3 separate regions of the Homo sapiens genome follow, and regions 1 and 3 are each linked to region 2. The links come from fine-mapping of genetic effects on gene expression. A gene starts in region 2. Each other region holds a variant in brackets. All regions are shown on one strand. Distances are between the middles of the regions. Region 1 overlaps ALG9 (ALG9 alpha-1,2-mannosyltransferase). Region 2 holds the start of COLCA1 (colorectal cancer associated 1). Region 3 has its middle 12 kb from the start of POU2AF1.

Region 1 (4,243 bases), 510 kb after region 2:
AATTTGTTGAATGTATTTGAAGGGTGATACAATTTGTCCTGACAGGCAATAAAATTGCAGATCAAAAAGCAAAAAAGGAATCTTCTAGGCATCCTCAAAGCATTTATTAAGTATCTATTTGGTGAATCCTAGAGTATATAAAATTACATATAAGTCATAACATGTCCTTGTTCTTTTCTTTTGCTCACTGCAGCCTCAACCTCCTGGGTTCAAGTGATCTTCCCAAGTAGTTGGCACTACGGGCATGCGCCACCAGGCCTAGTTAATTTATTTTTATTTTTTGTAGAGACGGGGGTCTTGCTATGCTGCCTAGGCTGGTCTTGAACTTACGGCCTCAAGCAATCTTCCTACCTCAGCTTCCCAAAGTGCTAGGATAACAGGCATGAGCCACCATGTCCAGCTGGCCATTCTTTCTTTCTTTCTTTTGGAGACAGGGTCTCAATCTGTTGCCCAAGCTGGAGTGCAATGATGTGATCATAACTCACTGCAGCCTCAACCTCTCAAGCTCAAGTGATCTTCCCAGCTCAGCTTCCCAAGTAGCTGGGACCACAGGCATGTGCCACCATGCCTGGCTAATTTTTAAATTTTTTAAAATAGAGACAAGGTTTCACTAACTTTTCGAGGTCAGTCTTGAATTCCTGGTCTCCAGTGATTCCTCCCGCCTTGGCCTCCAAAAGTTCTGGGTTACAGGCATGAGCAACCACACCCAGCCCCAAGTCATTCTTAAACTTATAATTTAGGTAAGGAAATGACATTAGCATATATGAAATGCAGAAAGTGTTATTAAAAATTCAGAGTTCAGAGAGGATGAGATCACTGGAGGCTACAGTAGTTGAAAAGACTTCCTAAAGTTGGTAATAAAAGTTAAAGAGAAAACAGAGGGAAAAAGACATAAAGGAGCATGGTTGACAGGGGGAAGAGGAAGAATATCTACCTGTCCCAAAAGGTGTTTGTTGAGAAACAAAACGAGAGTGAGACAGTCTGAGGACTGATAATGGAGGATCCAAAGGAAGAGAATCTGGATTTTATGCATCAGGAATCTATTCTAGGTTTTTCAGCCAAGGAGTAAGATGATAAAAAACAGGGTCTTAGAAAGAGAGGCCTATACTAGCTATGCTGCGGAGGATGAGGCAAGAAAGTGTTGGAGGAAAAAGCTGAAGTAAGCACTCTAGTTACTACTGTAATATTCAGTTGTGAAGTGATAATGCCTTCTGATATTTCTTTCTTTCTAGACAGGGACTCACTCAGTCACCCGGGCTGGAGTGTAGTAGTGCAAATCACAACTCACTGCAGTCTGTGAGCCAAGATCACGCCACTGCACTCCAGGCTGGGAGACAGAGCGAGACTCTGACTCAAAAAAAAATAAAAAACAAAACTCACTGCAGTCTCGACCTCCCCAGGCTCAAGTGATCCTACTACCTCAGCCTCCTAAGTAGCTGGGACAACAGGTGCACACCACCACGCCTGGCTAATTTTTTTTGTATTTTGTAGAGTCAGGGTTTCACCATGTTGCCCAGGCTGGTCTCGAACTCCTGGGCTTAAGTGATCCACCTGCCTCTACATCACCTTCTGATATTTCTATGGCAGTGGGAATGAAGAAAGAAGAAAGGACAAATCTCACTTGTATTTCTTTTTTTTTTTTTTTTTTGAGACAGATTTTGCTCTGTCGCCCAGGCTGGAGTGCAGTGGTGCGGTCTCGGCTCACTGCAACCTCCACCTCGCAGGTTCAAGCGATTCTCCCCTGCCTCAGCCTCCTGAGTAGCTGGGATTACAGGGGCCCGCCACCACGGCTGGCTAATTTTTATATTTTTAATAGAGACGGGATTTCACCATGTTGATCAGGCTGGTCTCAAACTCCTGACCTCAGGTGATCCGCCCACTTCGGCCTCCCAAAGTGCTGGGATTTCAGGCGTGAGCCACCACACCTGGCCCTCACTTCTATTTCAAATGAAACCAGTGACACCAAGATTTCTAATTCAGTGAACTAAGGCTGCAGTAAAGAATAGGTTTGGGTGACATTGAGGAAAGATGATAACTTGTGTCTTACACCTAATGAGGTGGGAAGAAGCATGGGGTACTCAAGTACAGTCATGCGTCACTTAACGAGGGAGACAGGTTTTGAGAA[A/G]TGTGTCTTAGATGATTTCATCATTATGTGAACATCATAGAGTGTATTTACACAGAGCTAGACAGTATAGCCTATGACACACCTAGGCTGTATGGTGTAGCCATAATAATCTTGTGGGACCACCATCAAACATGCAGTCTGCCCTAGATCAAAGTGTCACTGAGCAGCACACAACTGTAACTGAAAGAAGACCAATATGACTAAAATACTGAGTTAGAGAACTGTTTTCTGTTCCTACTCGTGGAACATTCCCTGTTGTCCCCTCATAAATTCCTACTCATCCTTCAGATTTCAGCTAAAAATGATTTCCTTAAGAAAGACTTCACTGACCTCTTAAACTAGGACAGGGCCTAAATTACATGCTCTTATAGCAACCAGTACTTCTCAAAACATTTTACAATTATATTCTATTAATTAATTGGGAAATTCATTGTAAGCTCCATAAAATCTGGGGCTGTGTCTATCTCATTCATTCTTCTATGCCAAAAACCTAGCACAGTACAAAACATACAGTAGGTCCTAAGTAAATGTCTACTTAACAAATACATGAAGAATGCATGAAAAAAAGGGAGAGGAAGTGAAGGAGGGAAGAAAAGGTAAAAGAGCAGAAGAGAGACAAAAAACAAACAGAGAGGGCCAAAGACCACAGATAAAGCTGAGAAGATGCCCGTAGCACTGGGCAGAAGAAAGAAGTGGAAGCAGCCAAGGATGAAGGGAACCAGAAGACAGGACATAGAAGAATCAAAGAAGTACACAGTTTTGAAAATCTGGGTGAAGAGTAGATTTCAAATGCTACAGAAACACTATGGGGATCTGAAGACTGAGAAAAGGCAACAGGAGGAATGGGTTCAATGGTTGTATCAAATAATTTTATCACAGTTTAGAATGCCATGTGGGGACAAGGAAAGAACTAATAGTCCAACCTCCTATTCTCAGTGACCTTCTCTGCTGTCTATCCAGCTGCCTGAGCCAAAGCCCCACAAGTCCTAAGACAGGAAGGATGTGAAGTTGCATTCAATCATCTATCAGCTGGAAATGACAATGACGCAAGTAGCTGTAAAAATAGAGATCTCTGGCAAGGGCCAACATGAGGTTCAGGGAACATCACAGAGAAACCATCTCCACACAGAAGACAGATCTTATTTCTCATATGTCACTGAAAATCCTCTGGTAAACAACTGTCATCATGAATCCTCTAAGAGTCCAAGGGGATAATGTGAAAGATCAATCTAAATCAACTGCCCTGTAAACTCCTAGGCAAGTGGGAGGATTAAAGCTGAAAAAACTGTTTAGACAGTTTGCCCACAGCTAAGTAAAATTTGGTCATAACTGAGACTATCCAGCAGCCACAATGGCTGACATATGTTATTAATTTAATACTTAGCTTTTAAGCAGCATTCAGAATGTCTTCCTTCCAAACACATAATAAATTCTGATTCATCACATCTCCTCAAATCCCTCTGTGAGCAACTGCAGCAAGGCCCAAGCCTTCTTATAGCTGAACCTTGTAAGCTCTGTGAAGGCAAGAACTGAATCTGTCTTTATAAGCACAATACACCTGGTGCCTGGTACAGTACCTGGCATATCTCAGGCAGTCAAAAAGTATTTGCGGAAGGAAAGAATGGTGACCAGCCACACCAGGATGCTGGACAACTTCCAACACCACGCTGTTCAAAACTATGACCAGCTTATTTGTAAGTGCCAAGAATTTCTTCCCTTAGCTTCTAGCCCCTGGAGGACAATCTATTTCCTCCATAATACCATACAATAAAGATCACATCATATCGTAATAAATCTACTAAACAAAATCAAGGTGCTGGTGTCTGGTAAGGGCCTTCTCACTGTGCCATCAAAATATATGACTCTATTCAGATCCATGACTGCATTCCTGCTATTGGGAAAGGGATTACAGAATCCAAAGGAAATAAACAGAAGAATCACACTTAAGAGCAACTGTCTTAGTCCAATCTGTGTTGCTATAACAGAATATCTGAGACAGGATAATTTATAAAGAAAAGAAATTTACTTCCTTACAGTTCTGGAGGCTGATGAGTACAAAATCAAGGTGCCGGCGCCTGGTAAGGGCCTTCTTACTGTGCCATCTCATGGCAGAAGGCA
Region 2 (4,243 bases):
AAAGAATTCAAATATTCTTCAAGCAGTGCCGGAAGAAACTGTGTGTATGCCGGATTGGAACACTCGATTTTAAAAAACTTATTTCAGCCAGATCAATTTGCAAACATGCGCATGCACGCACACACACAGACACACACACACTTGCCTTTGGGGTAAAAGGAAACTTGAGTTAGTCGTTATCAAAAGATATCATTTACCTTTCTTTTTTTAAATCATTAATTTTTTAAACAGCCTTGATGTGTTTTTATAAATTGTAGACTGTGAATTTTTGTGCTGTTTGAAATCTAAGAGAGAGTTGCCTTTCTTTGTATTCTTGGAGCAAAGTAGAAAGTGAACCCATGACTAGAAAGATAATATCAAGTAGGATATTGTAAACACACCTCAGGGAGATAACATGGGGTGGAGGCAGACAAACAGGCCAATCCGGGGGAGGAATGGAGTTAAGGAAAGCTCTACAATGAGGCAGATTTTTTAATACCCACTCCTTCCAAGTCCTTCAGCTCAAGCTGCAGCCAAATATTTGCATAAAGAGCTGGTAAAGGATTCCAGCTTCCTGGTTCATGACATTACAGCATGGATCGTTTTCAAAATTAATACTGCCTCCTGTTTCAGCAGTGGCTGCCTGCACAGCTCTCCCTGTGGCTCAGAGTATGGGAGTGAGTATGCCCTGTAACCCAAAAGAGGTGTGGTGAGCTCGGCTTCCCAGCACAGAATCACAGAGCAATACGGGTACCTTTAAACTTTAAAGCCACACCTGAAATTTAAAAAAAAAAAAAAAATCCTAAATTACTCAGTATAATTATTAATTCAACTGAAAAATGCAGGCTGCTTTACTTTGAATAGTTAAAAAGAGCAGTCTCATAAACTTTTAAGTATTTAAATACAGTAGTTTAAATAAAAGCAACTTTTATAGATAGTAGTACAAAACATACAAAGTACTGGAATAATTCCCGACCATTAACTAGAATGAAAGTAGGTTCCAACTCACCAACCACAGCTTTAAGAAAATATTTTCTATTTTAATATTTCATGTATACTAAGAACATGTGAATATTTTTAGCTACTCAGAATTAACAAAATTAAGAATTGTGTTCTTTGGGGAAACGACTCCCTAAGGCTAAGTAGCCAGATGGTATATGAAATTTTTGAGAAAAATAATTGACTAAGCCATAGATAGTTGAGATTAAATAAATGTTAGTCCTTAATAATTTTAAATCGAATAGTTTAATAGGAAGCCTTTTGCTGCATTTTCTCAAACTGTTACATTTTTACCACATAAAATTATTTACATTAATTTTTTACTAAAAATTAATCACTTTTAAAATTTAAGTAGAAGAATCTGATATTAGGAAAAAAACTCCCCAAGCAAGCAAACATAAATATTGGATCTAGATAAAACATAATATTGGTTGTATTTAAGAAGTCTGTTTTATGATTCGATTTCAGGTTTTCATTGTTCCAATGCAATTTTCCAGATTGAATCTTAAAAGGATTATAAACGTCAAAAGGCATTTTAAATTCTACACGGACTTAATACACCTACCGCAATTCTATGCACCTGTCTTTCAAATTCTATAAAATATTTGTTGACACTTTCCCTTTCACTTGTTTTTTACAATATATTTTGTACAAAAATTTGTCAAACATTGAAAAAAAAAAAGAAAGCAACTTTTTCTGAGAAGGAAGAATCTGGCTTACCTTATAGCAGAAAGAAACATAGTCCTCATCAAAATGTCTTAGCTTTCCCTTCAGAGCATTTCTTTCAGCCTGCTTCACGGTGATATTCTTGCTTTGACAGCGGTCCGGAGGCAGCAGTGTCCACCTTTCAGACCCAGTTGCACCATCTTCTGCAGGTCAGTACAGCCAGCATTAACAGTTCCCTCAAACACTCTTTCAAAAGTCCATCTCAAAAGTCTTTCAGTCTTGATTCAGGGGTTAAGATAGGCACCACCATTTAATTGGAATCCAACCAATCAGAAGGTGAAAAAGGCATAGTCACTCCACATGCAAGCCCAGCAAGAAAACAAGCATAAATGTTGTCTTCATTTCTGAATTCTCTACTCTCTGCTATATTGTCTCAAGAGTTTGTTCTTCACATTTATTCCAGTTCCTCATCGCCAAGTAACTAAACTGAACTACAAAATCAGAATTGTTCTCAGGAACTTATCTTTTTTTAGTGCACTGTTAGATGGAATACAGAACATCCCAAGACACTCAAATAATGCCTTTGCTCTGTTCCTTTAGTTTCCAGCCGACAGGGGCTTCCCTCCCCTTCTCTGTTCCCAGAAAGCAGTTCAAACAAGTGTAGGTTTTCTCAGCCCAATAAGAATAACTCGATTACATAAACACTCCTACCTCTGCTACTCAACAGCTAAGAGTTTAAGGAGGTCGTATATAAGGAAACCTCTGCCTATGGCCTCTCCCCACTAAATGTGTCACCGTAGCTTCACCTTAAAGGAACTTGAGACCTCAAGAAGAACACAGTGTCCTTTAGTCCCTTTGATGAGCACACTCTAATCCTCTCTTCTTCCAGCATTTACAGATAATTATCACAAATTGGGCCTATTAATAATAAAATGGAAAAGGAGTAATGTTTACTGATTATCTTTGTTTGATGTTTAACAACTTACTTTGATCACATCATGATGTTAACATGTTCACTGAGAAAACATTTTTGCTTTTTGTACTTCCGAGCCAATAGTGTTAATTGGTACTCTATGTTCCTGGTTTCCATGATTATCATTTGCATTCTCATTTAAATCACTTCTCAAAATTCTCTCCTCCAAACTTAAGTTACTGAGTAAGAGTGAAAAGTTCAAAAAAGCAATCACCATAAGTCAAAAGAATTATTTCCCGTAGCATCAGAAGTTTTCTCAAAGCCTCAACAACTTTGTCAGTTACTTCTGAGAGGTTTACGTGAACTGCCGGTAGGGGCTGGATGTCCATGGTTTTACAGCCCAAGAAAGGGGAAGTTTGAGCCATTATTTGACTGTGACACTTGGACACAAATTGGGTCACCATCCTTTTATTTTTGCCCTAACCAGTTTTACAGCCAGTTTCCACATTATTAACCATGTTCATTTCCCTGGAGCTTGAATTAGCTAGGACAACTAAAGAGTCAAAATTGCATTCCCGTTTACTTTTCTGGATTTGTTAAGCCCCCTTTCCCCCTAGACATAGTAAATATTCAGAGTATAGATCTCCATTCAAATCTGTGTTTTGCAATTTTTATGCAAAAACCTGCCTTTTTCCTTTCTCCTCTAGGACTGTATTTTGAGCCTGAACCAATTTCTTCCACGCCCAATTATTTGCAACGGGGAGAATTTTCCAGTTGTGTTTCATGTGAAGAAAACTCAAGCTGCCTCGACCAGATCTTTGATTCCTACCTTCAGACAGAGATGCACCCGGAGCCTTTGCTCAATTCCACACAAAGTGCTCCACACCATTTCCCAGACAGCTTCCAGGCCACCCCTTTCTGCTTTAACCAGAGCCTGGTAATTTTTCTCAGTTCTTTATATACCTGATTGTGTCTAACTATGGGGTAATAGTGCTTTGTGAGTTTGCACCATCCCGTGGGAAATCATACAAAAACTATCAGCAAGGAAATCATCCAAGGAAACAAGCAGAGAAGAATTTAAAAGTCAATGTATAGAAGTAGCCACACACTGCAGGGCATAAACCTTTGGATACACACGTAATTTAGATTTCCCAAGATTTAGATTTTTCGGCCACCAAGTAAGTTGGTGGGTAGCAATAAAAAGAGGTTCCTGGCAATATTCATTTAATGTTTTTTAAACTGTAAAGTCAAGAGACCTACTAATTGGAAGTCAGTGGTTTAAACAATGGCTCTTGGATTTTTTGATGGAATTTTGAGTTCTTGGAAATGGAATTAAGGCTGTGTATATATGGTAACAAACTTCATTTCATTAGGGGGAGGTTTTGCTTTGTTTTGTCATTGAACTGGCTCTACTAACTGATAGTTTGAGTCTGCTATAAGCACAATAACTCATTTGGGTCTGAGATGGTTAGTAAAAATGAAGCCGTAATCTTTGAAAAAAATTAAATTGGTTGTTCTCGGTGGATCTCAAATGTTTGAAAATGTGTTATCCTTCAAAATGAAGTAAGGTTTCTATTAGTGGAAACTAGTTATTTCAGTTGTCTTTTAGAGACTCACAGGTTTGTTTTGTAAACCTTAAATTGTAAAGTTTTCTTTTTTAAGGAATGTAAATACTTTTTGCCTTTG
Region 3 (4,243 bases), 86 kb after region 2:
CCACCAAAGTGCACAATGCCCAGAATATAGAAAAGACTCTATAAATGGTAGCTAGTTCTGTTATTACTACTTTTTCATTAATAATGAATGTGACAGATTTTGACTTGAACCCAGTGTTGCTATCACTATCTGTGGGAGAAAATACTAATTTTCTTTTAGAAAAAGGTATAATAAATGTAACAGGTGCACAATAAATATAAACTGATCGGCATGAGTACGTTTTTCTTTTAAAAAAACTCTCTTAATTAATGTGTCCCACAACTAGACACAATCACACCATAAAAAAACAAAAGTGGAGGGAGGCAGAAGGAGATAAAACAACTCCAGGAGTTCCATGTGTGCCTTCCAGCTCACAAAGCCAACGAAAGCTAAGACTTCTGGAGCACTGATCATATAGCGAGGAACTGTTCTAAATACTTTACACATATTAGTTCATTTAATCTGCATAACAATGCTTTGAAGTATTAGCCTCATTTTACATATGAGGAAACACAGTGAGGTTAAGAAACTTGGCTAAAATGCACAGTTTATAAGTAGAAGAGCCAGGATTATAATCTGGGCAATCTGACTCCATAGCTTATAATCACCACATCACATTATTCCCCACAACATGCACACACACAAGAAAGTTAAGTCCCAAACAGCTGATCATTCATCCATCCATCCATTCATTCATTCATGCACTCATTCATTCAGCAAATATTTGCTGAATGTCATCCCACTGTCATCCAGTCTGTATTTGGCATTAAGGATGGAACAGTGAACAAGGAAAGTAAGTCTCCTGACTTCTTAGAGCTTACATTCCAGTGGAAGTGGGGAGAGGTAGAGGAGAGGCAGCCAGAACAAATATCTTCCCATCAGAACAAAGAAAGCAGTGGGTCATAAAGTATCTTTCAAAATCAACATCTTGGGCACATTCAGAAAAGCATTTCTAAAAACCCAGCTAAGGGATAAAGATAAAAACTATCAATGGCATCCAACCTAGATATTCTACATGCAACAAATTCAAGAAATATCAGTTGAACACCAGCCAATGCCCTCACAATAACAAAGTAAGAACTGAGCTCAGGGAGCCCTAAGCTCAGTCACACCACAGGAAGTGGGCACTAAGGCTCTGGTGGGCTTTCCACTCTGCGACAGAGACAGAAGGTTTTTTAAGAGTCCAACAGGACTCTGAGCATCTTGACTCTCCCTCTTTCTTCGAAGCCTTCCAGTCCCACTTGAACATCTCATGATGCAACTCAGACCATTTATCTTCCCAAAACAAGGCAACCATTTTGCACCAGTTGAGGCAGACTTCACAGGCAGATGCACAGACTCCAAAGCAAAGTTCCAGGCAGATTGCTAAGCTGACTCAGACCCACCTCCGATGGAGTTTGGATGGCCCAATTTATTAAATGATGCCAAGCCCTGGATTGCAGAAAATTTGGCAGACTTCTGGTGCAAGGAAGCACCTTAGGTTTCTTTCGTAACCAGCAAATTTGGCATAAAAACAGTAATAGAGTATGTGCTCGATAAAGTCTCATTGATTAATTGATAACAGTTCCTTTACTCTTTTTCAGGGGTAGACAACCATATAGACATCAGTGGCTGCATCTGAAGTTGGAGAGCAAGTTCTCCAGCCCAACTATGTTAACGGCAGTCATCAAGCCCCAGGGACCCTATTCAGGATGCTGGTTTTTGAAGACAATGGCCCCAGTTGCTGCGACA[A/G]ACTCCAAACTCATACTGTTCAGAGTCTTGAGTCTTGAGCCAACACACCCATTTTCTGTCGCTCCAAATTTTTTGTAGGTTTTGAAATACAGGCAGGAATTTAGCCAGGTTTATCTAGGAGAAATGTCACGTGAGGCTCAAGGAAGTGTAGAGTTTTGCCAAATGTTACATGAGAATCCTAGTCTTTTCTTTTTTTAGCCACTGGACTCAGGTTACGCAGAACCTAGAACCTCTGCTGGCCGGGACTTCTTCCTCCTCGCCATCCTACAGGCCTGGGCGGCACAGGCGGAGTTATGCCTGAGGCCTCTCACATTTCCAAGGATCACAAGCAGCTTGGAATTGTGTTCCATCTCTCTGGTCCTTGGAACTGTGTTCCAAGCTGCTTGTGATCCTTGGAAATGTGTTTCCAATTGTGTTCCATTTGTGTTCCTTTGGGAAAGTATGGGCAATAGGGAGCCATGGAAGGTTTTTCACTGAGGAGTGACGGGGTCATAGTCACGCTTCTTTTAAAAGTGGCTTTGGCAACAGTGTGAAGATAAATTAGAGTTAGGAGAAAGGGTGGGAGGTTAGAGAGAGTCTTTCTAACAATTGTTTCAGCAAGAATTAACTACGGTTGAAACTGGAGTGGTAACCACAGATGATCCCAAGCCACCTGGCTCTCATTGCGTTCCATTCTGAAAGCTTCGTGTCTCTGCATTCTCGGAATCAGTCACACAGTAAGCACTCAATAAATGTTTGCTGGATTAATGAAAAGTGAATAAATCTAGAGTGAGCCCTTCATTTTTAAAATGAGGAAATAGGACCAGAGAGATGAAATTACCTGCCTATGGTTACCTAGCTAGGCAAGGGCAAAGATAGACCTAGAACCTAGCCTCCAGCTTCCCTTTTCCTGTGATTTTCTTTTTTTTTTTTTTTTTTTTTTTTTTGAGACGGAGTCTTGCTCTGTCACCCAGGCTAGAGTGCAGCGGCACGATCTCGGCTCACTGCAAGCTCTGCCTCCCGGGTTCATGCCATTCTCCTGCCTCAGCCTCCCAAGTAGCTGGGACTACAGGCACCCACCACCATGCCCAGCTAATTTTTTGCATTCTTAGTAGAGATGGGGTTTCACCGTATTAGCCAGGATGGTCTTGATCTCCTGACCTTGTGATCAGCCCGCCTCGGCCTCCCAAAATGCTAGGATTACAGGCATGAGCCACCGTGGCTGGCCTCTAGTGATTTTCAAACTTTGTCATGCATCCAAATCACCATTCCCAGGGTTTCTGATTTGGTAGGTCCAGGACAGGGCCAGAGGACTTGCATTTCTAACAAATTCCGAGGTGATGCTGAGGCTGCCGGTCCAGGGATCACATGTGAGAACCACAGCCTTATCTAGTTCTCTTCTATAACACCTAGCTATCTTGCTCAGAAAGCAGGGCCTCACCTGGCTCCTTCATCCCTCACTGCTTGGCTCTGAGTTTTTGGGAGAATAGACATTCCAGCCTGCACAGTGGTAACATAGTTTGCTAGCTAAGAGCCCAGACCTGCGAGTCAAGTGCCTGGGTTTGATCCTGCCGCCACCAACCTTGTCTCCTCTGGGTATGTACATTATAGAATTCTTGTGAGGGTTAGATTATTGGATGTGTGTAAAACAGTACAACAGTGCCTGGCAAATAGTAAGCACCCAAAAGGGATAGCCATTCTTGCAATCACGGATAGGCTTGAGCCTGGGCCCTGAGGGGAGTCTTATGGTACTGCCTGAACTACAGAGAGGAGTGAGAATATGCCACAGAGTGATGACAGATTATACCATATCGTCACCTAGATTCATGAACATACAATACACATCAACAATGAGTGCAAAGATTGCTAGGAGGGATAGCACTGTGGGCTGATGCTATCTGGATCTCCCCCAAGTTTCCTCCAAATCCACTGTTATCATGGATCTCTTATTACTCTGAGTCAAGGAACCGGATTACTAAATCACAGTTTGTAAATTACGATGAGTCACTTTATCTAATCTAGACGGTCATATGCACTCACCTCTCAGAGGCTGTGATGTCAGCTTGGACAGATTAGAGCATCCAAAGCAAAGGGCAGCATTGAAACACCTGTTCCTTGCAGCCCTCCACACCCTCAGGCAGCAGCAGCAGCACCTGACTATGGTGCACAGAACCCACGGGTGCCTGAGAAGGACACACTGAAGACCGGTGGTAGCTGAGTTCAGGTCTCCAGGATGCTGGTTGCCCAAAGAACTGTATACTTTGAAATCTACTACTCTAGTCCCAAATACAGGATGCACCATCATGATTTCCTCTTTAGCCACTCTCAGGGTTGGGAACAGCTGGGAAGAGGTTGCAGAGAAAAGCCAGGAGGAAAAACTCCCCAGTTACTAAAGCAAAACCAGAGTGTTGAAGGTCTAGCATGAGGAGGAGAGGGAGATGCTCTAGGAGGGAAGGATGACTGACCAAGTGACATGACCTGTCCCCAAGCTCCACTTTATGCTGATTGAACTCTGGGAGCTCCACTACCCTTTGAAAAGCTTCATGCAAATGTG

The links. PIP is the estimated chance that this variant, and not a neighbour inherited with it, causes the effect.
Region 1: its variant is the best candidate, but not a certain one, in a credible set for the expression of COLCA1 in esophagus mucosa (GTEx, PIP 0.51).
Region 3: its variant is the best candidate, but not a certain one, in a credible set for the expression of COLCA1 in esophagus mucosa (GTEx, PIP 0.57).

What each region holds. Positions count from the first base shown.
Region 1 is chr11:111,816,148-111,820,390 of GRCh38, forward strand. The region is part of intron 13 of ALG9 (ALG9 alpha-1,2-mannosyltransferase); the gene reads right to left. Among named protein-coding and RNA genes, the nearest start is that of PPP2R1B, 52 kb to the left of the region's middle. The variant A/G (reference allele first, on the strand shown) is at 2,126.
Region 2 is chr11:111,303,130-111,307,372 of GRCh38, forward strand. It overlaps COLCA1 (colorectal cancer associated 1), which reads right to left and starts at 1,919. Exons shown (of 2, transcript NR_169237.1): 1 at 1,699-1,919. POU2AF3 (POU class 2 homeobox associating factor 3) reads left to right here. Exons shown (of 5, transcript NM_001271458.2): 3 at 1,799-1,853; 4 at 3,265-3,494.
Region 3 is chr11:111,389,560-111,393,802 of GRCh38, forward strand. It overlaps a transcript of BTG4 not described here. Among named protein-coding and RNA genes, the nearest start is that of POU2AF1, 12 kb to the left of the region's middle. The variant A/G (reference allele first, on the strand shown) is at 1,711.